Homo sapiens: one gene and its partners. The protein of the gene in region 1 interacts with the protein of each later gene in a pairwise test. Each region holds a gene or a part of one and is shown on either strand. Other genes may lie near its edges.

Region 1 (8,250 bases):
GCAACATGTCCGAATTGATACAGCTGGTAGGTGTTAGAGTTAGGATTCAAGCTCAGGGGATCAATCCTCTTTCTGGTATGCTATATCTATTTGTATTTCAATGTGAATTTTCATATCAGTTTGACAATTTCCACACACACACATACAGACACACAAACCCAGCTGGGATTTTGACTGGGATCAAACACTGAATTTATAGATTAATTTGGTGTGATGATTAATTTTATGTCAACTTGACTGGGCCAAGGGATGCCCAGGTAACTGGTAAAATATTATTTCTGGGTATGTTGGCGAGGGTATTTCTGGAGGAGATCAGCATCTGAACTGGTAGACTGAGTAAAGAAGTTCACATTCACCAATGTGAGTGGGCATCATCTAATACACAGAAGGCTGAAATAGAACAAAAAGGCAGAAGAAGGGTAAAAATACTACCTCTGCCTGAGCTGAGGCATCTGTCTCCTCCAGCTCTCGGACATTGGTGGTCCTGGTTCTCAGGCCTTCAGACTTGGACTGGGACTTACACTTGTGACCCCCTGGTTCTCAGGCTATCAGAATTGGACTAAATTATACCACCAGCTTTCCTGGGCCTTCAGCTTGCAGACAGCAGATAATGAAACTTCTCAGCCTCCATAACCATACCAGCCAATTCCTCATAATTAATTTCATTCTGTATATATTTCTATATCCTATTGGTTGTGTTTCTCTGGAGAACCCTGACAAATGCATTTAGGGAGAATTGACATCTTATACTACTGAGTTTTTCAATCTTGAATTGGTATTTCTCTCCACTTATTTAAGTCTTCTTTAATTGTTCTAATAAGACTTTGTGGTTTCCATTGTGAAGAAACAATTTATTCACCACCACTGTGATGGGGCAGAGGCCTTCCAGGGGTCAGAATACTAAGGCAGGAGCTTGATGGATGAGAAGTGCAATGAGGAAATTGCAAAAATATGGGCAGAAGAAATGATTAAAGGGTCCACTAGGTAAAGCAACAATTTCAAGAATTTTAAAGCAGAATAGCTGGGTGTATAAAGTTTCATCAATGGCAGGCAGCAAACAGCTGTGTGCCCTGCCAGCAACAGGGAAGCCAGGAACTCTGGAGCGTATTTATATGATGCAGCTTACCATGGACTGATGATTCAGCAGCAATTTTTCATGAGGAGGAAACTGTGATTGTTAACCGAGGTATGACAGTTGTCCTCTTTAAAAGCGAAGAACAGGCTGGGCTGAACTCAGGCCAAGTTTGCCTTCTGGGCTTTCCTTCCTTCTATCTTCCATTTCTGTAGCCCCTCCAGCCTGCTAGCATTTCCTCTTCAGCACCATCATATTTCTTCGGAAACTCCCCTTTGCCACCTGCATCTAGACCTGCTCCACAGCCCCATAAACGATCCCCAAATTATCTCCCTCCCTAGATCCTTCATCCATTCATATTTAGGATATTCAGGTGTTCAGAGAAGGAAGTGGTTAGGGGATGCAGTTAATACACATCCATGTATTAAATGACAGATAGCTAGGTGGGCATTTCTCAAATGAGGGTCCAAAGACATAATCGTAGAGATTTGAGAGGTCCGTGGGCATTTAGATAATAATAGCTAGTATTTATTGCATGCTTGTCATGTATCAGGTGCTGTTTGAAATGCTTTACATGTATTATTTGGTTTCACTATAACATTACAAAGCAGATGCCCTTATCTATATTTAACAGGTGAGCAAACTGAACATGTTCTTATTCCCATTAAACAGATGGGCAACCACGGAAAGGTTGATCAGCTCAAGGTTACACAGCTAAGAAATGACAGTATAAGGACTCAAATCCAGGCAGTCTGAGTCTAGAGCTAGTGCTCTCAACCCCAATGCTGTCATCTGGGGCTCAATTGAGCCTGGATGGTCCAAGATGCTGTCATGCATGTTTGGCAGTTAGCTGGGGCTGTTGGCTACGGCCTCCTCCTCCATTTGGTCTTTCCAGCAGGATACATCAGACTTCTTTATGCAGCAGCTGGATTCCAAAAGGTAAATGTCTTCGAGGCAATTTTTCCATGTGGAAAATTACCTTGATGCAATGGCAGCCTCCATGTATACACCTACAGGTCACGAAATAGATAGGCTTATAGGCCAAATTAAGAAGCTTAAATCACATTATCTGGTGGTTCTAAAACGTATCCTCAAAGGTTTTGGCATTACTCCTATTAAGATGTGGGGTTTATATCCCTTTCCCTTGAATAGGGGCTGGCCCTAGGGGTTGGCTTATAGCCAGTAGAATACAGTGGAAGTGATACTGTGTGACTTCCAAGGATAGGTCAGAAAACGCCACAAGCCTGCTTCTTTTTAGACATTCACTCTGGGGAAAGCCAGCTGTCTGGTGAGAAGATCACCATGCTGGAGTGGCTGTGTGAAAGTGCTCTGGTTCTCAGCCCCATTTGAGCTACCAGTCAGCCATGTCAGTGAGCCATCTTAGCTATTCAGCCCAGCTGAACTTTCAAATGACAGCAGTTGTGTTGAAATCTGATTGATACTACATAAACGACTCCAATAAAATAACTGTCCAAGTAAGTTCTTCCCCAATTTCTGAGCCTCAAAATTAAGAGCAAAATAAATTGGCTAATTAAACTACTAAGTTTTGGCATAATGTGTCTACCCAAAGAGCAGCAATAATAACCAGAAGAGTTTACCAACCAACATAAAACAGAGTGAGAAGCAAGGGGAAAGAGATAGGGTAGATTAATAAGCTTAGGATAGGCTGAAGGACCATAGCACCTAAATTCTGTTTTATGCAATGTTCTCATGTCTTATCCCTCTCCACCATCCAGTCTTCTCAGCACATAGTGTGGCTACAAGGACCAGACTGGAGAGTAAGTAAGGTGACTCAACAGACTGAAGGGGCCTGGGCTCAACATATGTCTGTTCTGTTACAGAGCTGAGGGGCAAGTGTGTCTGGTTATAATGGTAGCTGGCATTAGTTGGCTTTGTAGCTGGGGGTTTATCTGCTTTTCTTGGGAAGAGATTACATGAGGCCATAATAGCGTTACAATGGGTGTTACCAGTAGGTATGCAATTTAGGGATGACATGGCTGTAAATCTGAAGATAGTATGATCTGTACCTTATTAATACTTAAAAGTCCACTTTGTCTTTCTGCCTCTATCTAAAGCAGCATTTTCATTTGTTCCATCCTTTTTATCTATGTTCAACCCATATCCATTCATTCTATGTGTAACCTTTCTCATAAGTGACTTGCTTCTACATTTTAGTTTCTCTTGTTTTATAATAGAATTAAATATTCTATAGTAATATAGCAAAAGCATTACAGCAAACCCCAATGAGCAAACATGTATCATATCACGTTTATGATGTCCTCCTATTTATTGACCAAAACAAGTCAAATAGCCAAGCCCACAGTCAATGTAGAGGTGGACCACACAACGGAGCGGATAATAGAAGGTGTAGTTCATTGGGGATCACTACTATAACAATCTAATACTAACACATAGTTAGGAGACGGTTGATCCAGGGATCGAACTTTCCACAGTCTGTCTCTGGAGGCTACACACTAAACTACTATTCTGGAGGTGGTTGGGAATGGGTTCTTACTGAAGAACTTTTTTCAAACCTCACTTCCCAGGTCTGGGGCCTGTGATCCACCCCAGTGAATCAGAATATCTTGGGGGTAGGAAATTGTGGGGGGGATGGGGTGGTACTCCCATGAGCCTGAGACTGAAATAGCTCTGCAGAGGATTCCAGTGCACACTAGGGAATGAAGGGGGTTTCAAAGACAAGGAAGATATACTTTATGCACTCAAAAAGCTTTCATTTCCACAGAGAGCATTCTTAATTGTTGTTATTACATCACAGAGGCATCACCTTGGAATTTAAAAAAGAAGCGATTCCTTTCAATGTTTAAGAGACATCAGTGTTTCTCAAGCTTTCGTGTGTGTTATTACTGGAGGGCTTGTTAAAACCCACATGACTGGGTCCAATGTCTACGTTCTGATTCAGGAGGTGTGAAGTGGGGTCCACTATTTCTCACGTCTAAAAAGCTCTGGGACACACTTTGAGAACCAGAGTTAGAGAAGTAGGAGGCTTTAGTGGTAACAATCCTCCATTATTCAGTTTAATATTCTACTTACATGTAGCACATTTACTACCTACAAGTTTCCGGGCTGAGTGCAGCACTGTTTATGATAAGGATGGGATTTAGATCTTGATTACGCTCCAGCAGATTTATTAAGTGGATTTATTCTCTAAGGGTGCCTAAGCGTCATTAGACAGGTTCAGATAAAGCAGAGATCTCCTCCCTTAGAAGAGATTAGGGACAGCTTAATGAAGTAGGAGACCTTTCACCTGGGCCTTGAAAGATGCCTAGGACCTGGATCAGGGGAAATCGTGGACAATCAAATTATTCTTCCCGCTTTAGCACAGAGACAAAAAAATCACAAGCAACCACTAGGAAAGGTCTATGACATTCTTGCCTCTGCCTCTAGCATTAACAATTTGCATGCCAGCTGCTGGAATCTGAACGGGGAGGACTGTTCTCGTGTCAAGGGCTCAGTCTCAGACCCTCCTTGGGCAGGGGTGGAACTGGCTTCGCTTTCTCTTTGGGGCGCCCAGAGCGACTGCATTAGAGCCGGCCTGCTCGGCCGAAGCGGCGGTGGGCGCTGACTTGGCGAAGGGCGCAGCTGGGGCGCTTCGTTCCGGAGCAGAGCGCCGTGATCCCGTCGGGGCTGGGGTGGCAGCGCAGCTCTCCGCCTGTCCAGAGCGGGGCCGCACGCCGGGGCACCTTTCAGAACAAGCTCCAGATGTGGCCCCAGGTTGGGGGCCGGGTGGCAGCTGTACTACCCTGGCGGGCGAGGGGTCCAGAGCTCGTTTTCCCTATTCCGATCTGTAGGTTTAACGCCAGCACAGGGTGGCGCACCCTACCTCCTTCCACCTTCACGCACCAGCGCGGGAGGGGACGCGTGTGCACGCTCCTCCCCTAGGAGGGAGGGCGGCCCGAGAGCCTGCAGACTGCGCCTGCGCAGCCTCGCTCACACACCTCCCCGCCCCCCCGCACCTCCTTCCCCTTTCGCCCCGCCCCGTTCCCACTTCTGCTGCCGCTAGGGGTAGCGGCGGCGGCGGCGGCTGCGGCTCGGGAGCGCGGCTGCTTTGAGGGCTCGGGAACCTTACAGAGTGGGGACGTGGGGAGGCTAGAGGGTGAGAAAGCTGGCGGGAGAGTAGGGCGGCGCTGGAGGAGGGCGGTGCGTGGCTGACTCATCCTCTGGAAGATCAGACTGACAGAGACACACACTAGCCCGCCCCGCCCGCCCGCGCCGCTCCTCCTCAGCCGGGAGGCGCCCGCCCGCACCGACCGCCCGCCCTCTCCGGGCGCTGTCCGGGCCCGGCCGTCTCAGAGAAAGTTTTTCCCATCGGAGGGGCGGGAGCCGCCGCGGGCCTTTTGGAAAGGAAGTGGGGACGGAACAGGAGGCGAGAGCCGCGCGGGCCCGCGGAGTGCATGGTGCCCGGCGCCTCGGCTGCCTGGCAGGAGGACCTCGGGGCGGGGTCGAGCTGAGCCCAGCTCCTTCTCGCCTCAGCCGCGCCAGAAACCGCCTTGCCGGACGGCCGCGGGGGTCCCAGCTCCTCAGCTCGCCATGTCCCGGCTGCTGCCGCTGCTGAGGAGCCGGACCGCGCGCAGCCTGAGGCCGGGCCCGGCCGCCGCCGCCGCGCCCCGCCCGCCGTCCTGGTGCTGCTGCGGGCGGGGGCTGCTGGCGCTCGCGCCCCCCGGCGGCTTGCCGGGCGGCCCCAGGCGGCTGGGCACGCACCCCAAGAAGGAGCCCATGGAGGCGCTGAACACGGCGCAGGGCGCGCGCGACTTCATCTACAGCCTGCACTCCACGGAGAGGAGCTGCCTGCTCAAAGAGCTGCACCGCTTCGAGTCTATTGCCATTGCCCAAGGTAAGGGGGGCAGGTGGGGGGCGAGCCCGGGGGCCCCGACGCCCTCCTCTTCTCGCCAGCCCACCGGGAGCCCGCTGCGGCCCTGGATCTTGGACCCCCGCCGCCGCCCCCCTTCCGCCCCCCTCGCCTGTCTGGCCCCACGCCTGGGACGGCTGGGGGCGGGGAGACTTTCCGCCGCCCGAGTTTCCCCCAGGCAGGTAGGACGGGCGCGGGTCGTGCCAGGCAGCCGAGGCCAGCGCTAGCTACTTCCTCCCCAGCCTCCGAATCCGGAGCTTCGGCCTAAAATGCCAGTTAACGCTGTTGGGATTGAGTTTTGATTTGCCCCGTGCCTCCCCTCCCCAGCCCTCCTGTCCCTTAGCCCTTGCTGCTTTCTTGCGAGCGTGCACCCGTGCAGGTGGCATGCTGTGCCTGCTCCGAGAAAGTGCTGCAAACCCGCCTGGCAGGAAGAAACTTTTTGAACGGTTATCAAATGAAGACGTATGGGTGGGTAGCCAAAAGAAGGGGTGTAGCTTCGAAAGTCAGGGATGCTCATAGCTGCTTGTTTCCACACATGTCTGATTGCGTTAATTTCAGCAGCCAAAGGAAACATTTTCTCCAGAAATGGAAAGACAGATTCAAGTTAAACTCCAGTTTTGGTTTTTCCCAGAGGTTGAAAGAATGAAATAAATAAGGAGGTATATTTTTTGGAAATCTGTGGCTCTGTAGTAAAAGTCAGACTGATGCTCAAAAGTAATTGGGAATGATGAAAGCAAAACGATTTTTAAACTAGCATGTTAAAATAGGATATTTCTAAAAGGAGTCCAGAATGGGGTAGGGCAGAATTTGAGTCTAGGTGAAAAAGCTAAAAGTTCAGAAAATAAAAAGGATGAAAGGAGCAAACGACTAAAATGGATGTCTTAAAATATTTCTGCCACTTAAATACAGTTATGTAAACAAAACACATTGCTTCAGTTTGTATTACATTCTGATGTGTTTGAAAGTTTTAAAAAAGTTTACTCTCCTCTCTAAACTTGGTAGGTACATAAACATCTCATAGATTCCAAAGTGTAGAGCACATTGATTCGGATCATGCCATTTGATTTGCCAGACTTGAAAGTATATCTTTAGCTGATGTGCAGGAATGGAGGAAAGAATTATCTACCTCATGTAAGCAGGACGTTATCTGTACTACTTCAGAAACTTGTTTTAGTTGTGGCTTTTAATCAGATGTTTTCCCCCTCAGTTCAGGAAATTGTGGACCAATTTATAGTGGATGATTGATTCCAGACATTGTTTACCCACAGTGCTTTTACAGGAAAATGTAACGTCCGATCAATTCCGTTATTCAATGTGTAATCATGATGTTATATGCAATCATAATGAAACACTAGCACATTTGTAATCTATGTGTGCACTCAGTATGCAGTTTAAAAATAGTCAATTCTGAAAATATGCTCCTTGGAAAAATAATATAGTCAGTCATGTACTAGAACATTAACTTTTGAATCTTTCTGCACTGACAAGACTATTTGAACACACATTTTACCTTTTCCAAGTAATTTCTTGGAAATTCTGCATTGTCAACAAGTTACAAGATTGGAGGGCCCTATGAATATAGTTTTGTGGCAGTTCTTGAAAAACATGTCCTGCAAGGTGACTGAATAATTTTTTTCTCATACATTATTATTTTTTACATGCCAGCAGTATTGCAGTAGCAATGCTACATTTCCTAATAAAGATAATATTTTTAAATTTAACGTGGTTTTAAATATTCTGAAAAGGACCTAAGCACTTTAGTCAATGGAGATCATTAGCATCAATTAAACTTAGTTATGTTACTAATATGAGAGAGAAATTAGTAATTTAAATTGTCTTCTTTGCTCAGGAGAAACAGTCAAGGATATTTGAAACAATGGTTAGTCAGATGCTTATCTCTCCTCTTTATATGCTAAAGAACATCAAAGTTTAAATCAGCTATTTTTGCTGATGTCGATGACAAAATGATTGTCCTATGAATCAAATGACACAGATGCTGCTGCTTTGTTAGTGTATGTAGTCTTGGTGTTCACTTACTGTTTTCAGTATCAATACATATAGTTATGGAGATAACTAGAATCATCACTTAGGAAATTACCTTATTCATTAATCATTAAGGTAAAAGGGATTTTATTATGTTGGGAATGCGTACAGCTCATTCCATTGCTGAAATCAACAATTTTTTTCCAGCCAGATAAATGAAAAACTCCCATGTTTTCTTTTATTGTTGCTTTTTGAATAATGTTTTGAAGTACTCAACCGATGTATTGTGTGTGTGTACTAAGTGTACTTTCTAACAAAATTAATTCTA
Region 2 (7,949 bases), on another chromosome or scaffold:
ACCTTTGAAAGAATGCAGTACTGAGGCTTTGTATGTATTGCATTCCTACACACCACTTCTAAACCACTAGGACTGTTTTTATAGAGTTATTTTATGTTCTTCACCAAGGGTGGGGCCGTCATGTCTAGGGTAGAAGCCAGCCTCCAGGAGTGTTTTCCACACTTGTAAGTCTTGAAAACCCCCAGTCTTGGGGTATGACCGCAATCTGTCCAAAAAATATTGCCCTTTGGCTCATTTTTGAAGCCTTCCAGTGGCAGGTGGTCTCTGAAAACAGCCCACTTTTCCAGCCCTGCCATTTTCAGAGAGTCTTGAAGGCCTTGTCACTTTGGGTGGACCACGTGTCGCTCAGCTGGAGGGTCCTGAGATTCAATACTTCACCATCACTTACTGCGATGTGGACCTAGGCAACTCACTTGGTATCTCTGAGACTCAGTTTCCTCCTCTGTAAAATGTGAGAAATATCTGATTCCATAGTGTCATCCTGAGGATTAAATGAGATGTGGAAAGTACCTGACCAAGTTCCTGGTCAATAAGTGTCAGTTCTCTGCTCCTCTTTCCCCTACTTCAGGGAGAATTATTGCTAGGCACACCTGCCTGCAGATCATTTACATATATCCAAGGCATTTCAGAATCAGATCAGAAATGAGACCACCCTCCAAATGCCAATCCTGCCAACCGTCCTGTCTCTACTGTCTCCCCTCCTTACCCTTGGTGCCTCATGCAGGGAACATCATCGGCTCTGGAATCTTTGTCTCGCCAAAGGGAGTGCTGGAGAATGCTGGTTCTGTGGGCCTTGCTCTCATCGTCTGGATTGTGACGGGCTTCATCACAGTTGTGGGAGCCCTCTGCTATGCTGAACTCGGGGTCACCATCCCCAAATCTGGAGGTGACTACTCCTATGTCAAGGACATCTTCGGAGGACTGGCTGGGTAAGAGGATCTGTGGAGACCTGAATGGTCTAGGGGAAAAGGAGGAAGACATTCAGAAGGAGGTCAGATTGGAAAAAGCCAAGGCCAGGGGTTTCCAGTCTCCAGTGTGCCACGGGGTGCTAGTGAATGGAATGTCTCTTCTGCTTTCCTGCCATGGTTGCTAGTGTAGCCTTGTATCCCCTTGAGGCTCCCGATAATGATGGAGGACCAGGTTTGTAGTTTTGACCTCTATGTTGATCTTAGTGGGAAGGAGTCTATGAGTGAGAGCAAACAGAACTGTGTAACAACACTGACCATAGATTCCCAGAGAAAGCACATCACAAAAACAACGCCCTTCTATCTTGACAAATGAGAGTGGCCAGCTAAGGTAGAGTGCACCCTCTTCTCACACTACCAAGGATAATGGCCTCCCTCTAGAGCTGGGCCCTAATCTTAAATTTCCTCAATTTCTGCATCCCTGCCATTGGTAAACCCTCACCAATGGGCCAAAAGGTGTGGAAGGCGCTTCCCCTGCAAACCCCCACTTGATACCTCTCCTGATTATTGCTTACGTAACCACACCCTTAGTATGTCCTGTCTATCAACATTCTGGGGTTGCAAATTTTGTTTTTCCACCATTGGATGCTGGTGGCCACAGTGATGGAGAAGAGATCATGAAAGGAGAGGAGAGAAAGGAAGAACGCCAAGACTTGTGTTAGTGCTTGTGGAAATTTAACTCTTCATTAAACCATTTTATTGTCACTGCAGAGGGCTGGGTGTCTCATTTGTGGGTGGGGGCAGAGGCTGGGCTCTTCAGCATCCTTGAAAATAAAAAAGAGATGCATGACTTGCCCGGGCTCTCCCCTGATGGCTCTGCGTCCCTGCCATGCCTTTCGGCGGATGTCCCTTTCCTCCTTCAGGTTCCTGAGGCTGTGGATTGCTGTGCTGGTGATCTACCCCACCAACCAGGCTGTCATCGCCCTCACCTTCTCCAACTACGTGCTGCAGCCGCTCTTCCCCACCTGCTTCCCCCCAGAGTCTGGCCTTCGGCTCCTGGCTGCCATCTGCTTATGTAAGTGTCATCTGGGTCTTGGTAGCAAGACAGCCTCTTTTATTATATTTATTATTATTATTTTTAGAAACAGAGTCTTCACTCTGTCACTCAGGCTGGAGCGCAGCCGCATGATCATAGCTCACTGCAGCCTTGAACTCCTGGGCTCAAGTGATCCTCCTGCCTCGGCCTCCCAAAGTGTTGTGGTTACAGGTGTGAGCCACTGCACCCAGTCTGAGGGACAGCCTCTTTTATCCTCCCTGGAGGTCTACATGTCTCTGACTCTCCTAACTTCTCTCCATTTTTTTTTTTTTGAGGCAGGGTCTCACTCTGTCACCCAGGCTGGAGTGCAGTGGCGTGATCTCCACTCACTGCAACCTCCATCTCCCAGATTCAAGTGATTCTCCCACCTCAGACTCCCGAGTTGCTGGGATTGCAGGCGTGAGCCACCATGCCCGGCTAATTTTTGTATTTTTTGTAGAGATGGGGTTTCACCCTGTTGGCCAGGCTGGTTTTGAACTCCTGACCTCAAGTGATCCGCCCGCCTTGGCCTCCCAAAGTGCTGGGATTACAGGCCTGACCCACCTCACCCTGCCTCCTTTTCTTTTCCCCATTACTTTTCTTTCAATTTCCTACAAGTGTGTTTTTTATGAATGGATTCTGCATACAATTGTCTGGTGTTAAAAAAAAAAAAAGAAAGAAACTTAAGTAGCTCCTTGGAGGCACTATGATTTTCACTGGCAGGGTTCTTGACATTACGCAAAGCACTTTCACCTATATTATCTGATTTGGGCCTAATGACAAGTCCATGAGGTAAGCTGGGCCAGTGTTAACATTTTCCCAGAACAGATAAGGAAACAGAGAGCCAGGCAAATGACTTGCCCAGGGAGGCAGGCCACGTGGAGTGCAAGGGCTCCTGATTTCTTGTCTGTCCAGTGCACTGCACTGTGCTGGCTACTCCCAGCTGCTCCTAGGAAGATTACTCTGGCTTCTTGGCAGTAGGTCCACATCTACTTCTACCTCAACTTGTCAAGTCACACTCTTTTAACTCTCTTGGAGAAGGGTTTGTCCATGATCCCTGCCCTTGATGAGTTTTCTAACTAGGAGAAAAGCCATATAGACAGATACTGTGGTTAGGATTCAATTGCAGTAAAAATTCAGAGAAGGGAGCTAGGCATGGTGGTGTACACCTGTAGTTCCAGCTACCTGGGAGGCTGAGGTAGGAGGGTCGATTGACCCTGGGAGTTCTGGGCCACAGTGAGCTATGATTACACCTATGAATAGCCACTGCACTCCAGCCTGGGCAACATAGTGAGATCCTGTCTCTAAAAAAAAAAAAGAAATTAAAAACAACAATAACAATAAAATTCAGAGAAGGGGAAAAGATCTCTGTGGGCTGGAATAGGTTAGAGAGGCTTCCTAGAGAAGTTCTGCAGAGCCGTATTTCTAGGAAGTCTCAAAGCTTTATCTCTGATATTAGTCATCTCAATGGATTGGGGTATTTTACATCTTTAATCAAAAACTAATTTCTAAAGTAAATACTTAGATATGTTTCAGGGGCTCCACCTCTAGGGTTCACTGGGTCCCTGCCTTCCCATAGCTTCTAACACACATACACTTAGCTGAGGGCAGTGATCATCCTGGCCATATGCTTTCCCAGGTCCTGACACTTTTCCTTCTGTCCTGTTACGGGATGGGGGAGGAAGAGATCACTCACCCACCTCAGTAGCCTCTTACAGGGCAGGCAGCTGGGACCCAAGAGGCGGTCTCCTTGGCAAGTGAGCCCTCTTTGGCAGTGCTGGTCAACCCTGGGACAGACCTCCACCACCCAGGCCATTTGCAATATGGGGCCAAGACATTTGTTTGGGGGTGTATTCCTTGTGTTTGATCAGGCCTGCTCACAGATCTGGAGGCAGAGGAATGCAGGCTCCAAAACCAGGCTGCCTGCGCCTGCATCTCCAGTCCACCATTTCTAACTGCAGTGGTGAGTGCTGGGCAAAATCACTCGTCCACCCTACTGTGAGATGGGGAGTGTAATCCTAGCTGCCTCAAGAGGTCGTGGTCACAAGGACTGCAAGAGAGAAGGAAGGGGACACCCTCAGCACAGTGTTAGACACCCAGCACCCCAGTCATATCAGTCACTGGGGGTGGGCAAGATGCTGGGGCCACTTTATCCTTGCATCCTAGCTGGATCCAGAGTTGAGATGGGGAGCGGGGAAGAGCGAGGGCGTGGGAATGCAGGAAGAGTGCTGTTTCTGCCATCAGATCAGCTAATGGGAGGGTGGGAGGCAAGGCCACAGAAGTGCTAGCTACTGCTGTTTTGGTGTTTCTTTGCACACAGACAGCTTCCTTTTTCCTGCTGATGCTGCTAAAGTGTCTCAGACAAGAGGCCACCCTTACCCTTCTACTAGAAATCAAGAACCCCCGAGGCTGTTCAGTTTGCACCCTAGGAGAGGAGCCAGGCCACAGGTTGAAGAAGTTCCCAGGCAGCCAGACCCCATGGCTTTCTTTGCATTCCCCAAATCTGCCAAGGGTTTGACCTCTTGCACAAAGACCCTCCAAAGTAGTGTAGCCTTTTTGGCGTCCCCTCGGACCAGAAAGGTCCAAACTCTCCTAGGAGATAAGAACGCCACCTGCCTGTAGCCCTGCTCCAGAATGACATGTTGCACAGTCCTCTCCACAGCCTTCCCCTCACCTAGACACTGCAAGGACCAAGCCAAGGAGAAATTTAGAAACTGGCTGATGACAAAAATGACAAGACCCCCCTCCTCTATTCCTGTAGTCAAAGATTCAATAAAGCTTATCTAAGTTTGGCCTCTGCCTTCTCAGCAGAACTGCAAGGAAATTATCTCCAACTTAACAGTAGCCAATCTTGTCCTCTAAAGACAGGAATTTTCAATGTCCTTGAAATATGGGTTCAAATATTTGTCTACCTTCATAAGCAGAAAAATCTTAAATCCTTCTTATTCCCAAGCGTAGTCTTCCTTATTTCCTTTAGGGGAAATGGAAACCAGCTCCACACCTGTCCCGCTGCAGTGTCCCTTTCCTCCTAGCTGTGAAGGCCATGTGGAGCTGCCATCCCTCTGCCCGGCAGGGTGCACACGTACATGCATTAGCTATAACAAACTTCCTCTCTCCCTTTCCTTATACCTGACACTCCCAGCTGCTTTGAGTCTGTGTACAGAGGTTCTGTTTTCCGGTTTGTTGAATACTTTTTTTTTTTAATCCACTTCTATAGGCCCCTCAAATCCTCTCTTCTTTTTTTGAATTTTATGGCAGGCCATACCAGATAAGCATCCAATCCTCTCATACGGTATTCAGTAAAACAAGAACCAAGCTGTCAGGAAGGCTTGGTAGATGCTTTTTTTTTTTTTTTTTTTAGATGGAGTCTCACTCTGTCACCCAGGCTGGAGTGTAGTGGCGCCATCTTGGCTCACTGCAACCTCCGCCTCCCGGGTTCAAGCGATTCTCCTGCCTCAGCCTTCCAGGTTGCTGGGATTACAGGCATAAGCCACCATGCCCAGCTAATTTTGTATTTTTAGTAGAGATGGGGTTTCCCCAAGTTGGTCAGACTGGTCTCAAACTCCTGACCTCAAGTGATCCACCCGCCTCAGCCTCCCAAAGTGAGGCCACTGCGCCCGACTGGTAGACGCTATCTTTCATTAAATGCTGGTACTTTTTATTCCAGCACCCCTCCCACCCACCCACCTACCCCCACCATCATCCAGCCCTCCTCATCCTCTTAGCAGGGGCCAGGCAAGCCAGCTACATAAAATAAGCCCAGCCTGTGTCTCTTTTGAGAGACGCAGTAGAGAGTTCCGGTGTGGCGTAAACATATGCACATGGGGAACTCTGCTTCCTGCTGTCCTGTGGCGACATGCTGATGACTGTGAAGCGAGAGGTTTTGAGGAAAGGCCACCCTCTGTGGAGAGGTCATTGGTGTATAATGGAGGGCACTGGAGGACAGGGCACAGGGCCCAGCAGGGAGAGCCTGTGTGGTAAAGCCCGTGGCGAGGGTTTGCTGGGGGAGGGAGGAGATGAGGCCAAGTCTGGTTCCATGGTGGGGCTGTTTTGGAGGAGAACTGATGAGAAATGAAGTTGGGAGGAGCCAGGTGGTGGGGGTGGAGAGGTGGAAAGAACCTGCTGAAACTGGCTTGCCTGCCGGATCCTGAGCGGGTCGGGGAGAGGAGAGGGAGAGGGAAGGAACTGCAGACTTGGATCACACTTATGCAACTGCAGCTGCCACTTCGAGTTATTCTATTATTTAGGTCAAAGCTGATTACTCACTGCTGAGTCAGCAGAATATCCCTAGCCACCCAGCAGTAAAAAAAGAAAAGAAAAAAAAGAGAGAGAGAGAGAGAAAGTATTTTACATTTTAATTAAATAAAAAGCCTTTCTCTCTTCTCCAGAACAAGTATATTAGTGGGAGTGGAGGGAGTTAGGAGGGGACTGGGAAGTGTTAGAACTTGGTTTTGATACCTTTTGTGATCTGCTTGTGTGTTTTTCTCCTTTTGTATTATTTCATGAGTAAATGACTATATTCCCCATATAAAAGATCCAAGTAAGATATAGAGCCAGCAGCGATAGCCGCCCTTATCATCAGCCGCTGGCCAGTAGCTGCAGTCCTAGTGGATAGTTCTAAATAAAGTGCATCTATTACTGTACAACTCTGGCTGCATGGACCTATGTACTGACAGGTTATTCCTACAGCGTGCCCTTTTTTTTTTTTTTTTTTAAGACGGAGTCTCCCTCCGTCACCCAGGCTGGAGTGCAGTGGCGCGATCTCGGCTCACTGCAAGCTCTGCCTCCCGGGTTCACGCCATTCTCCTGCCTCAGCCTCCCGAGTAGCTGGGACTATAGGCGCCCGCCACCACGTCCGGCTAATTTTTTGTGTTTTTAGTACAGACAGCGTTTCACCTTGTTAGCCAGAATGGTCTCGATCTCCTGACCTCGTGATCCACCCGCCTTGGCCTCCCAAAGTGCTGGGATTACAGCTGTGAGCCACCCCCACCCGGCCTACAGCTTGCCGTTTTATCCTGTAGCCACATCTTTTGGCTGTTACCTGGGTCTCTAGTTGTAAACAAAGCATCCACAATGATCCAGAGGAAGCACTGGGTCCAGGGGACACCCTTTCCCAGGCTTCCATCTGTGCATCTGTGCAACTCTGCATTTTCCTTTGGGATCCGTTTGCTCCCCATTCTCTTGGAGACTGGATCACCTTTCATTCAGTCCCCTCCTGGCCTCCTTCCTCTCATTTGGGGTTGGAGTCATGTCCAGCACCTGAAGTGGAATCAATTCTTTTTATTCAAGTTCCCCACTTCTCCCTGAATGTCTTGACCTAAAGAAGTTCCTTCTCCTTCCTCACCCTCAGGAGAAAGAAATATCCTGTATGCATCTCTCAAGGAAAAAATGCTTCTAATCTTGTTTTCTATCTTTCTACTGAGATTCCTAAGAGGCTAGCTTTTTCCAGGGCTTCAGATAGCTCTTCTTCCTTGAGCTATTTGGAAAGGAAAGGACTTCATGTGTTGCTTCAAACTCCTGAGTTGCTTTGCAATTCCTCTGCAGAAAGCCTCCAACTGCCTGGTGCAGAATGCTGTCACAGAGAAACTCGTGAGTTGTTTTGCAAGTCTCTTGCAAATTTAATCAATCCCTTGACCTCAGAGCATTCAATAGTCTTTCCTATCATCTAAATCCCTTAACCTCAGTTTATTTTCCCTTGAGCCTTCACATTCTCTACCCCCAAACTGCTCCTCCCCAGACACTAAACATTTTCCTTCAGATACCTGGGCAGCACTGCCTTCTTGCCCTTCCCTAGTCCCCAGAGAGTTCTTCGGGTATCCGATCAGCCTCGTTTATATGAATTCAGACAAATACAGACTGGCCTACATTTGATTCCCATATATCCAAGACTCCATTTTTCTCTGTACGCCTTCTAACTAGCCAGCATTTAAAATCTAAATGTATTGAAAATCTCTTGATTTTTACTCAAT
Region 3 (7,949 bases), on another chromosome or scaffold:
ACCTGGCTCAAGTCAAAGCTGTCTTAGTTATTAACTTAACTTCTTTGAGCCTCAGTTTCCTCATTTCTGTGTCTATCTTTTCTCTAGCAAACATTTACCAGTGCTTACTATATTCCAGAAACTATTTTTAATGCATTAAAAATTATAGCTCATGAGTCCTGGTAACAGCCCTATAATTTGGCTATGCTTTATATCCCCACTTTAAAAATGAGGAAACCGAGGCACAGAAAGGATGACCAACATGTCCAAGGACACAGAGGTGATAATAAGTGTGAAGTCAAGAATCAAACCCAGGTGGCCTGGCTCCACAGTCAGTGAAGGAGTAAATAATGGTCATCTCCAAGGTGGTATTCAAAATATATGACAGCCGACCAGGCACGGTGGCTCACACCTGGAATCCCAGCACTTTGGGAGGCCGAGGTGGGTGGATCACCTGAGGTCAGGAGTTTGAGACCAGCCTGGCCAACATGGCAAAACTCTGTCTCTACTAAAAATACCAAAATTAGCTGGGCATGGTGGTGGTGCCTATAGTCCCAGCTACTGGGGAGGCTGAGGTGGGAGAATCGCTTGAATCTGGGAGGTGGAGGTTACAGTAAGCGAGATCACACCACTGCACTCCAGCTGGGTGACAGAGGGAGACCCCGTTGAGAGAGAGAGAGAGAGAGAGAGAGAGAGAGAGAATATATATATATATATATATATATATATATATATATATATACACACACACATATATACACACACACATACATATATATATATACACACACATATACAACCACTTTGCCACTGGCACCAACCACCCAGAACTGACACTGGCTATGGTGCAGGAGCAGAATCTGGAAGACTCCCAGCTCTGCCAGGAGCGAATCTCTTCGTTTCCAAATCATGGATAAGTCTGGGGGTTCAGCCACTTAGGAGACTCGGCACAGCAAGTATCCACGAGAGAACTGTTTGACATAATTGACTCACTGATGTGGCTGTGCTGGGTGTCCCGGGTGAATGTCACCCTTGGATCACTCTTTGTCATCCCTGTCATTCCTATTTCAATGGGACTGCAGGAGTTAAAGGAGCTAACCTTTGTTATTTCACATAATGATGCTTTGTGTTATTCCAATTTCTTTATGAATTTAATGCATATAATAGGATGGCACAGAAGATTAGATGAAAACACCTGCAAAATGTGTGGTAGGGCGCCTATCACATAGTAGGCTTTAAATATAGCATATCTCTTTCCTCTGCTTCCTCCAGCCCATAATCAAGGGTGCTTGCAGCTGGCCCAGTGCCCTTTCTCTCACAGAAGCTGGGGCTTCACTAAGGCTGTCAGTTATCTGCTGAGGATCTGTCAGTGTTTGGAAGAGAAGGAGCCAGTGTTTGCTAGCTTGGCATCCCCCGGACTGTCAGGAGCCAGGCTGGGAACAGCAGAGGCCAGCAGAAGAAAGGCCAGAGTCAGCAGTCTAACATACAAGGAAATCTTTACCGCCCTCGGGCCTGTAGAACCATTCCACCACCGTGGTGGCCTCCACCTCCTCTCTCTTCATGCAGGAGATGCAGCGCAGCTTCATGGGGTTGCCCTGCACGGCCTCCGTCTCCGAGGGCACTTCCACACACACAGGGAAGCAGACACTGACTGCAGAGAGGACAGATGGACAGGGAAGGAACAGCAGGTGGTGGGGGAGGGGCACAGGAGAGAAACATTGGAGAAGAAGGAGGGAGGGAAGAGAGACAGAGAAGGAAGAGTCATGAGGCCAACCTGAAAAAAGCCACGTGCACATGTCTACACCTTCACCTGCGCTCCCTGAATGTACAGGCTCAGAACGTGTACACATTGGAGGAGACCTGGATGATCTAGACATTGACTGAAATCCTTCCCCTGGAAGCAGTGGAGATGCAGCACCGTACATTATACTTGAGCCCTGCTCTCTAAGTCTTATAGCCCAAATGGGAGACAGGGCATCTACCTACCCAGCAACCATCCATCCCCCTTCATTCCACCACCACTCATTAAAATCCACTCTCTGCCAGGTCTGATGCTAGACTAGAGATGCAAAGATGAATAAAACACTAACCATGCCCTAAATGCATTTATAATCCAATAGGGAACACATATTCCTAACTAGGATTAAACCAGACCACAGCAAGTAACACACTCATGATATATTCTGTTCTTAGAAGACAGGCAGTTAGTTACTCCCAGTTGGCCTGGGGAGAAAGGAAGAGAAGGATGGTGAAACATGAGGCTAGAAAGGTAGGCAGGGCCCATGCTGTGAAGACCTCTGTGTGTCCCTTCCAGTGTGAGGTATCCAATGTTTTAAAGTCGTGGAGAGATGTAATTGTATCTGTGTTGTGTGAAAACTGTAGGTAATTCTGACACATGGTGGAGGTTGGAGCAGCAGTGAAGAAAATGGCGAGCGGACCACTAAGCTGGAACAATGGTCTATGCAGAGGAGTATAGCAAGGCAAGTTAAAATCTGGAGCGGGGTCAGATTGTGGGACACCTTGCATGCCACACAGAGGTCTAAGACTTAGTGTTTCTGCCCTCTAGAAACTTGAAGTCTGTTTTTTAAAAGGAGGCAAGTATATCAGCTTGATAATTCAGAATAACTTGAGCGGGACAAGGCTGCCAGCAAAACATGCGCAAATGTGAGCTGCATTAACAGATGTACAGTACGCAGGAGGAAGGAGGCGTAGTTTCTCGGCACTGTTTTTGGAACAAATCTGGACTATTATGATCAGTTCAGGATGTCACATTTTAAAAAAGGAAGTTGTTCAAAGAGTGCATGCCCAGAGGTGAGGGAGATGGTGAAGGATCTGGAGATAAAGTCTGGTGAGGAAAAAATGGGAGAATTCGAGTTGCTTAGCTTGGACACAGAACATATCTGTCTTCAAATATTTGAAGGCTGGCAGATGGAAGAGAAATTTGATTCTGCCCAACCCTAAAAGTTATAAGAAAAAAATAAGTTTAATGCAATAAAGAAAGAATTTTATGATTTTGGAGCTGTTCACAAATGCAAATAACTAAATGCTAAGAGAGTGTACACAGCATTGTTTGGGATATTTGAAAGTAAGACGAGGCCAGGTGCTGTGGCTCACACCTGCAATCCCAGCACTTTGGGAGGCTAAGTTGAGAGGATTGCTTGATGTTAGGGGTCTGAGACAAGCCTGGGCAACATAGTGAGACCCCTGAGTCTACAAAAATAAAATAAAATAAAAATTAGCCAAACATGGTAACACACAACTGTAGTCCCAACCACTCAGGAGGTAAGAGGATTGCTTGAGCCCAGGAGTTTGAGGCTGCAATGAGCTATGATGGCACCACTGCACTCCAGACTGGTTGACAGAGTAAGACCCTATCTCTTGAAAAAATAAAAACAACATGATGGTCACCGCAGATTCTTATATTAGGACTTTGAAGATCCCTTCTGATGCTACTTTTTCATGAATTAATAATAAAAACAGAACCCCCAGAAAAAAAAAGAAATAATACACACTACATTTAAAAACTAGTCCACTGTTAATGGTCAGCCTGTTCATCTCCTGGCAGAGCGTTCTTTCCTAAAAGCAGAGGAAGGTTTTATTTAGAGCTTAATAAGACACTGCCATAAATTAATTTTGAGTCCAAAAACTGTGTTTGATTGACTTAGAAGGCAATGTATTTATTTTAAAACATGGAGTTTAAAAACTAGTGGCACTAGAATTAACTTAAAGTTGTAAACATCAAGGTAAAATAAATGTAATTGGGTTTTCAACTCTCCAGCAAGCTGGGTGAGTCTTATCTGACAGTCTTCAAGAGGACCTATTGCTTCTGCAGATGGTGAGCCACGTTAATGGAGAGAGGACTCACATCTAGGGAGAACTGATCAGAAACATCTTCAGCATATGATGAGTCTGAAGTATTGATTATAGATCTGATTAAACAAAAAGGAAATGTGGTTTGCGCAAAAGTTTGTGAGTGGGCAGAGGGGTAGAGCGTATGCAGCAAGAACTCCGTGTAGTATGGAACCTCAAGGCACATTCATATTTAATGAGAGCTGGCAAAGATAAATTCATTCATTTCATGTTGACAAACTCAGAAGTGGACTAAGAAGTCTCAAGGAATGCACAGTTACAATTATAGAGGCAGGGTGAAGATAGAATCTGGCAACTGAAGAGTTGGGTTTGATGTACTATGTAATCTCTCTGGACTCAGTTTATTCATCGACATCATGCTGAAAGTTACATCTGTCTAGTAGGTTTATCATGAGAATTTTATGGATTAATTTACATGAATGTGCTTTGTACAAATGTCATTATTCATGTTATTCTATCTTTCGTTTATTTCCCAAATATACTGAGTGCCTTCTGGGTGCCAGGCATTATTCTAAGCACGAAGAATACACCAGAGAACAAAAGAAAAGAATCCCTGTTTTATGGAGCTTACATTCCAATGGAGGGAGAGGGAAAACAGCAACATTAAATAGTAAAAAGTGCTGTGAGAAAAAATAAAACAGGAGAGAGTGTGTGCACAGGGTCATTGGAGGATGGCCTTTCTGAGAAGGTATCATTGAGCAGGCGCTGAAGAAAAGAAATGAGGATACAAGCTATACACATATCTGTGTGAAGGCATGTCAAACACAGGAAATTGCAACTCAAGGGCTCAAGGGGCCCAAAGGAGTGTGTTTGTCATGCTCAACAGACAGCAAACAGTCCAATGTGGAAATTACAGCAAACAACGTGAGAATAGAAGGGGATGAAGTAGTAGGAGGGATGGGGAGGGCCAGATCACAGCAGGTCTTATTGGCCATGTTAGAACCTTGGCATTTGCTTAGAGTTTATGGCATTTGCATGGAGCAGCAGAAGGTTCTGAGAGGAAGAATGATGGGATCTAATTTGTACAAGATCATATGATCTGATGCTGTGTTGGGAATAAACTGATGAAGTGAAAGGGACAAGGGTGGAATCAAAACAGTTAAGAGGTCTGGTACAGGGATCGGATTGGAAGACGATTTTGTTTTGGTGAAGATGACAGTAGAGCTGGTGGAGTTTGAAAGAAATGAAATGCAAGAAAATGATTTGCTGGATTAACATCTTTGAAAAGGTGAGAGGTGATGTGCTCTAGTGAACAAGTAGATGGGATGGCAGAGATAGAAGCATAGTTAGTTCATTTATAGTTAATGGAGGGAAAGCAGTCAGGATGGCAAATGGGGTATGGCAGAAAGTGGGGTAGCCCCTCTCTTTTCTTGGTTGCCCCTAAGGCAACAATAATCCAAGGTATCATCATAGAGCAAGTCCCACTCCTTCCCTTCTGGTCAAAATCTAGTTTCAGGGCATGAGAACTCTGCTCGTATGATCCTGAAGAGTACATTGAAAAATGGCCACAAAGTTCCCCCACCTCTGTTTGCTTGCCTTTTGCAGTATGACTTGCTGCTCCTTGCTTCAAGAGGTAATGTCTGTTTCTCCATCCTTTGAGTCTTCAGCACACCACTGTCTTTCTTTCTTTCTCCTTTCTTTTTCTTTTCTTTCTTTTTTCTTTCTTTCTTTTTTTTCTTTCTTTCTCTTTCTTTCTTTCTTTTTTTCCTCTCTCTCTCTCTGTCTCTGTCTCTCTCTCTTTCTTTTTTTTTTAGATGGAGTTTCACTCTTGTCACCCAGGCTGGAGTACAATGGCATGATCTCAGCTTACTGCAACCTCCGCCTCCTGGGTTCAAGCGATTCTCCTGCCTCAGCCCCCTGAGTAGCTGGGATTACAGGCACCTGCCATCACGCCCAGCTAATTTTTGTATTTTTAGTAAAGACAGGGTTTCACTATGTTGGCCAGGCTAGTCTCAAACTTCTGACCTCAGGTGATCTACCCACCTTGACCTCCCAAAGTGCCGGGATTACAGACATGAGCCACAGCACCCAGTCCACCACTGCCCTTCTTTCTATGAAACCCTCTAGGTATTCAAAGAAGGCTGTAAATATGGCAGGAGCTCAAACTACATTGCTGACTAAAAGTAACAAACTCTTGGAATAATGTTGACCAAATCATTTGACCTTTGTTCTTCTCTTCAATTCCCATAATAATAATGAAGAAATTTATGAGAAGGAAAAACATGATTATTAATAATGATCATATTTCACTAGGGAGTAGTAGCATCCATCTATCATGAGGCAGATAATAAAGAATTATGAACCAGCTTCTCTGATACCCTCAAATCTTTCTCTTCTTTGGACAATGCCCAATTTTTCCTCCTGAGATTGCTCTAGAATGCTTTCCTTTGCACTGAGATAATGAAAAATTTGATTAGAATATAAACAATTTCCAAAAAGGGGTAATAAATGAGGTTATTTTTAGATGCTGACACCCTGACGTGACTTGTTCTGTCAATTTAGCTGGTCACTTAGGGCCTTGAATAGGATGCACGAAAGATCACCAGGGGAAGAGAGGAAAACACACAGGGCAACTAGAAGGGCAGGCCTGGAGAAGAAGGGCAGAGAAGGTACTAGGTGCTAGTGAGTGAGGCCCTAGGACAGGTGATGGTGTTGGGGAGAGATGGGACGGTAGCTCAGAAGAGAAATGGGAGGACAGGTGCCCTCCTGGCGATTGTGCATAGTAGCACATGTGTCCATGAGAGGTGCTAGAAGGAGCACTGGAAGACTGAAATCAGAAAACAAGGGTTCTCTAGCAAGTCCTTTCCCTTCCCCGAGCTCATTTTCTCATCTCTAAACTGGAAATAGCACTCTTTCCCCTGACTACCTCAGGGATAGACATGAGGACCAAAACAAGCAATGTATTGAAAATTACATTGTAAACTGTGATGCACAGGCAAATATAGGGTTTTATTTATTTATTTATTTTAAAGGCTGGGCATGGTGACTCATGCCTATAATCCTAGCATTATGGGAGGCTGAAGCAGGAGGATTACTTGAGCCCAGGAGTTAGAGACCAGCCTGGGCAATATGGCGAGACATCGTCTGTATTAATTTTTTTAATACAATTATTATTATTTTATTGTATTAATTATTTATTGTATTAATTATTTATTGTATTGTATTATTTTTTAAATCTCTTTAAAAAATAAAAATTATTACATGCTTTAACAAAGGAAATAAGGAAACTTTTTTTCATGCATGCAGAAAGTAAATGGAAAGACTCTTTCCCTTCATATTGTACATCATATTAAAAAATCAACTTTGGAAGGGGGAACACATCTAACCCAGCATTATTGTTCAATATTGGAATTGCATGCAAATCAAATGAAATTGTATCTGTGAAGGGCGGCTGTTTTTCTTTCTTTTTTTTTTGATGGAGTCTCGCCCTGTTGCCCACGCTGGAGTGCAGTGGCACAATCTTGGCTCACTGCAACCTCCACCTCCCAGGTTCAAGCAATCCTCCTGCCTCAGTCCCCCTAGTAGCTGGGATTATAGGCACGCACCACTATGCCCGACTAATTTTTGTATTTTTAGCAGAGATGGGGTTTCGCCGTGTTGGCCAGGCTGGTCTTGAACTCCTGACCTCAGGTGATCCACCCGCCTCGGCCTCCCAAATTGTTGGGATTACAGGCGTGAGCCACTGCGCCTGGCGAAGGGAAGCTGTTTTTCTTACAGTTAACAACCAAGTGTCCTGAACCACTTCTCTTTCCCTTCCACAGCTTTTCAGTTTGGTGAGACAACACTCAGTTTGCAAAGAAACTGAGAATGGGCAAAGATGGGCATACTGTGTACACTTCTTCCAAAGTTTTTTGGGGTCGGGGAGGGGATGGGCACTCTGTCAATTCTAGCAATATTCTTCAAAGATTTCTCTACCATTCATCTGTGGAGCTGAAAAGGATGTTAGATATCACCCGTGCCAACTTCCAAACATTACACAGAAGGAACCAGATAGCACTTTAAGGTTGTTATATAGTAAGCTAGTGGCAAAGCTGAGACTCCAATGCAGGTTGCACAAGTTCTAGTTAAAAGATTCTTGGATGATAGCATGTTCTCTCCCT
Region 4 (7,815 bases), on another chromosome or scaffold:
AACGTGCTCAAGGTCATCTGCAGGGAGCTAAATCTCCACTTCCTCGTGTGTCAAATGAAGATGTTGTGCTAACCGCTCTTGGATTTTATCCAGCATTAACAGCAGATAAAACTCCTATCAATGACGATCCACTGAGTTTTGCTTAAAACTGATTTTTTGTTGGTATTCAATTATGAAGAAATGTAATTACTTAGATATTGTTTCACACCGTACTTGATTTTCACCTATTTGAGTTTCTACTGAAAATTGATTTTATTACTTTTGTACCTATAAGCTTCTAAAAATCTAATATTTAGTTTTTGCTTGTTTTTTTAGTTTTGTTGGTAAGACTCAAAATCAAAATTTAGAAAGAAAAGAGGAAAAGTAGCTAATATTTATTGCACAACTACTATGTACCTGGCACTCTGAATACACACACACACACAAATATATATTTCCTCCATAAATATAGTCTTGTGTCAGCCAGGCGCCGTGGCTCACGCCTGTAATCCCAGCACTTTGGGAGGCCGAGACAAGAGGATCACCTGACGGCAGGAGTTTGAGAACAGCCTGGCCAACATGGCGAAACCCCATCTCTACTAAAAATACAAAAATTAGCCAGGCACGGTGGTGGGTACGGGTACCTGTATTCCCAGCTACTCAGGAGGCTGAGGCAGGAGAATCACTTGAACCCAGGAGGTGGAGGTTGCAGCGAGCCGAGATCGCACCATTGCACTCCAGCCTGGGCGACAAGAGTGAAACTCCACCCCAAACTATTATCTATATATGTGTGTGTGTGTTTGAGTGTGTGTACATATATATACATATATATACAGTCTTGTGAGAAATAGGTAAATTTAACCCCATTTTGCCAATGATGAGATAAGGCTTAGATAGGTTAAATAATTTGAACAAAGTTAAAGGTGAATTAAAGATAAGAGTTGGCAAAAGAAAGTAAAAGTAGCTTTATCTTTCATAGGTTTCCTGTTCATTGGTGTTTTTATGACAACATTGACTAATAAGAGATTAAGGTAATAAATGTTCTCTTTCCCAGAACACAAGTGTTTGAGAACACTGAAGATTTATGCTGCTATTCAAAACAGAAGATCTAGTTGTGTTGCTAAATGCCATGGGGGAAATGTGCCTAAACTGCAGACTGATGTAAAACAGATGAGAATTCAAATCTGAGTTCTGCCATACTGGTTTGTAGCATTTGGCAAGCTACTTAACCAATCTGAATCACAATTTTCTCAGCTGTAAAATTCAGAACAATAAAAGGCCATTTACAAGGTTATTATGAGCCCCAAGAAGAAAATAAGCATGAAAGCATCTATCCCATGCCTATGGGGCACTTAATAAATATTAGTTTCCTTTTTCTTTCCAAAAACTTTTAGGTCCTGGAATTTATCTCTGATTTATGAACTTCATGCAAAGAATATCTATCATTTCCCAGTTAAATAATCAACTTTACTGAATTTGAATTAGCAATGTATATTAATGGCTTTTACCATTAAGGTAAAACACAAAAGCAGTGTATATTAGTGGCTTTGTATATGAGTGGCTTTTACCATTAAGGTAAAACACAAAATTCATCAAGTTATTTTTTTTTCAAATCTCTCATAAGTGGGTAAACAAAAACACTGCCTTGGGAAAGTTAGTTCCTATTCTGCATGGTATGAGCCCATTAAAATTTATAGGTGAAATATGTTCCATACGCTAAACATTCAGCACAAGCGGAAAACTGGAAACACATACCTGCAGCTGACTCTCACTGATGTCAACTCCCAGCTCAGTCATTACCTCTGATTCATTCATTCATGGTAAAGTGAATCTCAACTAAATGACATACACATGAAACAAATACTTAAATTTATAAGCAGTTCTTCCCCAGGGCAGGAAGTGAAACGGCATGTTCACAAGTAAGCAAAGAGTCTCGAGAGACCATTGTTTTTAGCTCTTTTTCCAGTGCTATCCCTCTACTCTTTCCTCAAATGCTCTTTTTTTCCCCCATCAAAACATGTAATCCAGAAAAGCATGTGACTAATTCATCCTCATTAAAGTGTAAATAAGGGACAAGGCTTAATGTCTCCCAGAGGTATTTATCTACACCATAATTGGGAATAAGGTCACTGGCTTAAAGGGAAGGAATGCGAATCTAGTGATGATGTTAACGATCTGCAAAGCAACAAGAAAGAACAATTTTAGTCCTGAGAGCCTTCGCATTGCTCCTGAAGTCAAATCGACAAGCCATCTCAGCACTTAAAGCTGGATATGGCCACCAGACACCCCTAAAGCTCCTTTATCCAGTCCTCTAAAGTGCTTCTTTCCTAAAGTAGGTGCTCAGGCATCACTGACTGGAGCTACGGGAGTCTCATTCTGACTATGCCACTGACACAACCACGACGGCTGCTACCAAACCACAATCGTTAGCTTCTTGGGATTCTTGGTTTAAGTCCTAGGAGTTGCTAAAGAGGCCAGTGTAGGTAAGAATGAGCTCAAGCTTAGGAAGGGCCACTGGGTGAGGTGCAGACCTGCCTCCACTGCTCAGAACGCATCCCACTGCTCAGAACAGTAGCCAATAAAGAAAATGATCATCAGCAAAGTAACTTTTGAGCACTGAAAGGAAAGCCCACCCATGGCTGAACAAGTCTCTGTGATATTTGTAACATTTCCCACTAGAATCTCTACCAAAAGATTAGAAGAGTGTTTAACACAAGAGTTTCAGTTATTCCCCCTAGGCAGGATAAGAGACAGACTGCTGAGCTTCCCTGGGGTTACTTACCTGAGATCCATATCTCCATCAACCCAGAAGGTGAAAATGTTAGAGATGGTGCCCCCCGGGCAGCAGCCCATGATGAGAACAGCAATAGCTTGGACTGGCTTCAGAGAAAAGCTAATGGCCAGGAGATAAGCTGTAAAAGGCATGAGCCCAAACTGGCAGAGCAGTCCCACAGCAATGCCCCAGGGTCTCCTGATGTGCGACCACAGCTTCCGGATCTCCACGGAACATCCCAAAGAGAACATGAGCAGCCCCATCATCACAGTGGACACCACTGTGAAAACGAGCTCCAGGTTTCCATGCACCTCCAGTCCCACTGGCAGCTCCTCCTCTGAACTGTTGGCAGGGCAGGCTGAGCTGCTGGAACAATTGGCTCTCATCTCCTCATCTCCTTAAGGCAGCATTACAAATGAACATCGGCAACAATGGCTGGGCAGGTCTATCCTGCCACATTTTGTAATAGTGCAACGAAGTCACACATGGAGAATCATTCCAATAACTGTTGGCCAGCAAGGTGATTCATCCTAATCTGATCAATTTTTTCACAAGTGGCATTATAAAAGTAATTATCACAGGCATGAAACATATAATAAACTGTGGTAAGTAAGGCTTTCCACTTCTGTTCTTACTCACCACTGAATATGTATGTGAGATGAGACAAACAAACTTGTTGTCAAGTGGAGTGACCGGGCTATGTCGTCAGCATCACATTGTGTCCCTGGAAAGTAGGGTGGATGCCAAGAAATAATTTCTCCAAATTCAGTTGGGATTTCAAAGAGCCAGGATGCACAGACAGAAAAGCTAACTCCGGAAAAAACAACAAAGCCAAAGCCACACCTTGTAGCATTAGCAAAGCGTGTCTGCTGGAAATAGAGCAAAAAGAAAAAAAACGCCGGTGGAGGAAATGTCAGGAGGGACTAAGAATAATTTCAAGGAGCTTCAGAATTTGTCTCAGTTTTTCTTCTAGTTCTATTAGAATTTGTGTCTAAAGTCAATAATTAAACACCTGTGAGAATAATATGGTATTAGGCACCTAATTATGTCTCATGAAACATGTGAAAACTAATTCCTTCACCCAAAATAATTCAAGGGAGCTCTCACTTGCTTTTGGAGATAAGAGTCTACTTTGAGATACATACCCCTGGCCTCCTAGGGACATCTGGGAATCCTGCAAGGGGATGTGGTAAAGAGCTTGGTCTGAAATGGAGATGGGGTCTGAGGACAGCCTCTGACCACAGTGCCCAGGGCCCCTCTGTGCATTCTAAGCAGGCACTGCTGGCAAAACCCAAGGACTGTATGGTTCTGTGAAACTAAACCTCTGAAAAAGCAGGTGCCACACCCCTTCTCACAGCAGAAAGTTTATTTGTGGGGCACAGGCTAGTAACAAGGCACACTTCATAAACGCCTCTACCTGTCTCAAGAGGGATACTAGCTATGCATTGTTTATTCATGGATGAGCAAATTCTTCTCCATGACAGAATGCTCAGGACATGCTGACTGTATAAAAATACAAGTTAGATTCAAATGTGAAGTAAATTCTAACTATTTGAAGAAAGAATAAACTGCCTTTGGCAAACAAACCCTGAAGGCAGCTCTGGCCATCCAGCCTCCCTGGAGGTTGCGTATAAGGGGTCAGTCAGCACAGGGCGTATTTACGCAGAGCCCTGCAGAGAATGGACACTGAGGAACGGGAAAGGTCTCTGGAAGGCAAGGTGTTCCCAGCTTGAATGATGCAGAGGTGTGGTCAGGCTGAGGAGGAAGGGAGGAGGGAGACAGCTAACATTTTCTGAGCACTTCTCAGGGGTGACAGAGGTGGTGATATGGTTTGGCTGTGTTTCCCCCGCACCCAAATCTCATCTTGAATTATAGCTCTTATAATTCCCATGTGTCATGGGAAGAACCTGGTGGAAGGTCATTGAATCATGGGGGCGGGTTTCTCCCGTGCTGTTCTCATGATAGTGAATAAGTCTCTCAAGTTCTGATGGTTTGATAAAGGGGAGTTCCCCTACACACGCTCTTGCCTTTTCTGCCACCATGTAAAACGTGTCTTGCTTCCCCTTCCCCCTCTGCCATGATTGTGAGGCCTCCCCAGCCATGTGGAACTGTGAGTCAATTAAACCTTTTTCCTTTATAAATTACCCAGTCTTGGGTATGTCTTTATTAGCAGCGTAAAAACAGACCAATACAGGTGGCTAGGTGCTTTACACATATGTGGCTATGTCTGGTGAAGCAGAACTTTATTTACTTATTTAGCAAGAGAAGGGGTCAGGGGTGTCTGCCTAGATAATGTCCAAAAGCCCCTTAGTCAACCTTCTTTTTTTTTTTTTTTTTTTTTTTGAGATGGAGTCTCCTACTGTCGCCCAGGCTGGAGTGCAGTGGAGTGGCGCGATCTCGGCTGACTGCAAGCTCTGCCTCCCGGGTTCATGCCATTCTCCTGCCTCAGCCTTCTGAGTAGCTGGGACTACAGGCGACCACCACCATGCCTGGCTAATTTTTTGTATTTTTAGTAGAGACGGGGTTTCAGTGTTAGCCAGGATGGTCTCGATCTCCTGACCTCGTGATCTGCCCGCCTCAGCCTCCCAAAGTGTCAACCTTCTTTGTTCCCAGGAAGAGTCACTTGAATCGCCCTTTTTAGTTATACAAATTTAAGTTTTGTATAAGCACCTCCATTCCTGATAAGGATGGTATAAGCACCCCCATTTCTGATGAGAATGGTGTGACGGGAACTTTTGTGATTGCTGGGTACTCAGTGCTGATAGAGGGGAGGGGGCTAAATATGCATAGCAGCCTTAAGGAGCCTCCTGGGAGAGGGAGAAAGGTGACCTTGGCCACTTCTCTTTTAAAATGTAGTGTTGGCCGGGCGCAGTGTCTCATGCCTGTAATCCCAGCACTTTGGGAGGCTGAGGCAGGTGGATCACGAGGTCAGGAGATCGAGACCATCCTGGCTAACACGGTGAAACCCATTCTCTACTAAAAATACAAAAAAATTAGCCAGGTGTGGTGGCGGGCACCTGTAATTCCAGCTACTCAGGAGGCTGAGGTGGCAGAATGGCATGAACCAGGGAGGTGGAGCTTGCAGTGAGCGGAGATTATGCCACCAAACTTCAGCCTGGCAGCCTGCACGACAGAGCGAGACTCCGTCTCAAAAAAAAAAAAAAAAAAAAAAAGTAGTGTTATCAGAATTTCTCAAAAGAATTAGGATGTTTCCGACTGAGGTCAGCTGGTCCTAACACACACCAGGAAAGACAGGGGTTTCTTGCCTGATGACAGGTTCCTCTGTGTCCAGTCACCCTGGACAGATGCCACAGGACACAATGACTAAGTATATGGATATGACCTGAAGAGAAGTCATCTTGAGAGCCCAGGCTTGGACACCGCCATGTTGTGTGCCAGGACTGGACCGGAAGGGACAGGGTGGCAATGGATAAAGGCCCACTGGACTGGGTGGGGCCAATGCATCAAAAGGTCCCAACAGAAACAACCGCAGTGATCCCAGGGCCTACCAGCGGGCTGGTCAGGCTTTTCCAAGTTTCTCCCCAGTGGAGATGGGAAGGAGATTTTCCTGGGAAGAGTAAGCACTTAGGGTTCTCGGTCAATTTGTAAAGAAGATTTCAAATACAGGATCGCAGACTTCCTGCCCTTATTGGTAAGTAGAGATTCAAATGATTAATTAGAAAATTTTAAAAAGCATGACCAACTTTACATCCCAAGCCAGTGAGGCAGATTATGAGATCCCACTTAATCCTCACATTTATTCTAGGAAGTAACAAAGGCCCATTGGGGCCATATTATTTGTCGAAGATTATTAAGCAGGTAAATTATAACATTGGGATTTAAATCTCAATCTAATTCTCCACCTGTCCTCGTTTCCTTCCCTGGAGCACACTGAAGTGGAAGCAATGAAAAGCAGTCAAGAGCAAGACCATGCGGAAAAGACTGGCAACCACTTAGGCATAGCTCAGGGGTAAAACACCACTATTTGGCTTAAGGATGGAGAAATAAACTAATCCCTAATCTCTAACATTATCTTCTATTCTCACACACTCAAAAGGCATCTACATATGTTCAATATGTATGCACCTTCATTTTGAGATCCAGTTCTACAAATCACAGGAAGTATTTCATGTACTTCCAGCCTCTGTAAGTAGAATTTGGGGTGAAAGATACTCCTCAGGAAAACCAACAGAAAAGGCTGGGAATGTAAAGTCTGAGGGGAAAGTGCCAAAAGAAAAGGTAACCAGACTTGGCTGTGGAACTGTTTCCCACGCTCTGAAAGGCAGCACAGGGTAAAACTTCTAGAAGCTTGAAAGACAGAAAAATCCTATAGGTTCAAAAAGAGTTTACGTAAATTCATGAGAGATAAATCCAAAACAGATATAAAGGAAATTGGCAGTAATGGAAAAAGTAGACTGTTTACTCAGACATGACACAAGGTAAAAAGCCAAATTCAGTATTTTTTTAACTCAACAATAAAAACACTATCACTTCCCAGAAAAAAAGACAAAATACTTGAAAAAAAGTGATCAACATCTTCCATGGTTGTAGTGTCCCTTCCAAAACTCATGTTGACATTTAATTGTCATTTTAACAATGTTGAGAAGTGGGCCCTTTAAGAGGTAATTAGGTCATGAGGGCTCTGGATAGATGAATGCTGTTATAGTGGGGAAGAATGGGTTCGTTATAGTGGGAATGCCATGTGATGCCTTCTGACATGTTACGATGCAGCAAGAAGGCCCTGGCCAGATGTGACCCTTTGGGAAGCCCATGATTTTGGGCTTCCCAGCCTCCAGAACAATGAACGAAATAAATATCTTTTCTTTATAAATTACTTTGTCCGTGGTACTCTGTTATAGCAGCAGAAAACAGCCAGGCGTGGTGGCTCACACCTGTAATCCCAGCACTTTAGGAGGCTGAGGTGGGAGGATCACCTGAGGTCAGGAGTTCAAGATCAGCCTGACCAACATGATGAAACCCTGTCTCCACTAAAAATACAAAAATTAGCTGGGCGTGGTGGTGGGTACCTGTATTCCCAGCTACTTGGGAGGCTGAGGCAGGAG

The links.
Region 2: the proteins of TMEM65 (region 1) and SLC7A8 interact in binary tests that used the Homo sapiens proteins (3 or more experiments, as listed by UniProt).
Region 3: the proteins of TMEM65 (region 1) and SCN3B interact in binary tests that used the Homo sapiens proteins (3 or more experiments, as listed by UniProt).
Region 4: the proteins of TMEM65 (region 1) and SLC10A6 interact in binary tests that used the Homo sapiens proteins (3 or more experiments, as listed by UniProt).

Annotation. Positions count from the first base shown.
Region 1 is NC_000008.11:124,369,528-124,377,777, reverse strand, and holds the start of TMEM65 (transmembrane protein 65), read left to right. Parts: upstream 1-5,076; 5' UTR 5,077-5,620; coding exon 5,621-5,924; intron 5,925-8,250. UniProt on the Homo sapiens protein: Essential for maintaining proper cardiac intercalated disk (ICD) structure and function as well as cardiac conduction velocity in the heart.
Region 2 is NC_000014.9:23,159,316-23,167,264, reverse strand, and holds part of SLC7A8 (large neutral amino acids transporter small subunit 2), read left to right. Parts: intron 1-724; coding exon 725-929; intron 930-1,828; coding exon 1,829-1,980; intron 1,981-7,949. UniProt on the Homo sapiens protein: Associates with SLC3A2 to form a functional heterodimeric complex that translocates small and large neutral amino acids with broad specificity and a stoichiometry of 1:1.
Region 3 is NC_000011.10:123,644,121-123,652,069, forward strand, and holds part of SCN3B (sodium channel regulatory subunit beta-3 precursor), read right to left. Parts: intron 1,631-7,949; coding exon 1,467-1,630; intron 1-1,466. UniProt on the Homo sapiens protein: Regulatory subunit of multiple voltage-gated sodium (Nav) channels directly mediating the depolarization of excitable membranes.
Region 4 is NC_000004.12:86,845,978-86,853,792, forward strand, and holds the start of SLC10A6 (sodium-dependent organic anion transporter), read right to left. Parts: upstream 3,408-7,815; 5' UTR 3,139-3,407; coding exon 2,762-3,138; intron 1-2,761. UniProt on the Homo sapiens protein: Transports sulfoconjugated steroid hormones from the extracellular compartment into the cytosol in a sodium-dependent manner without hydrolysis.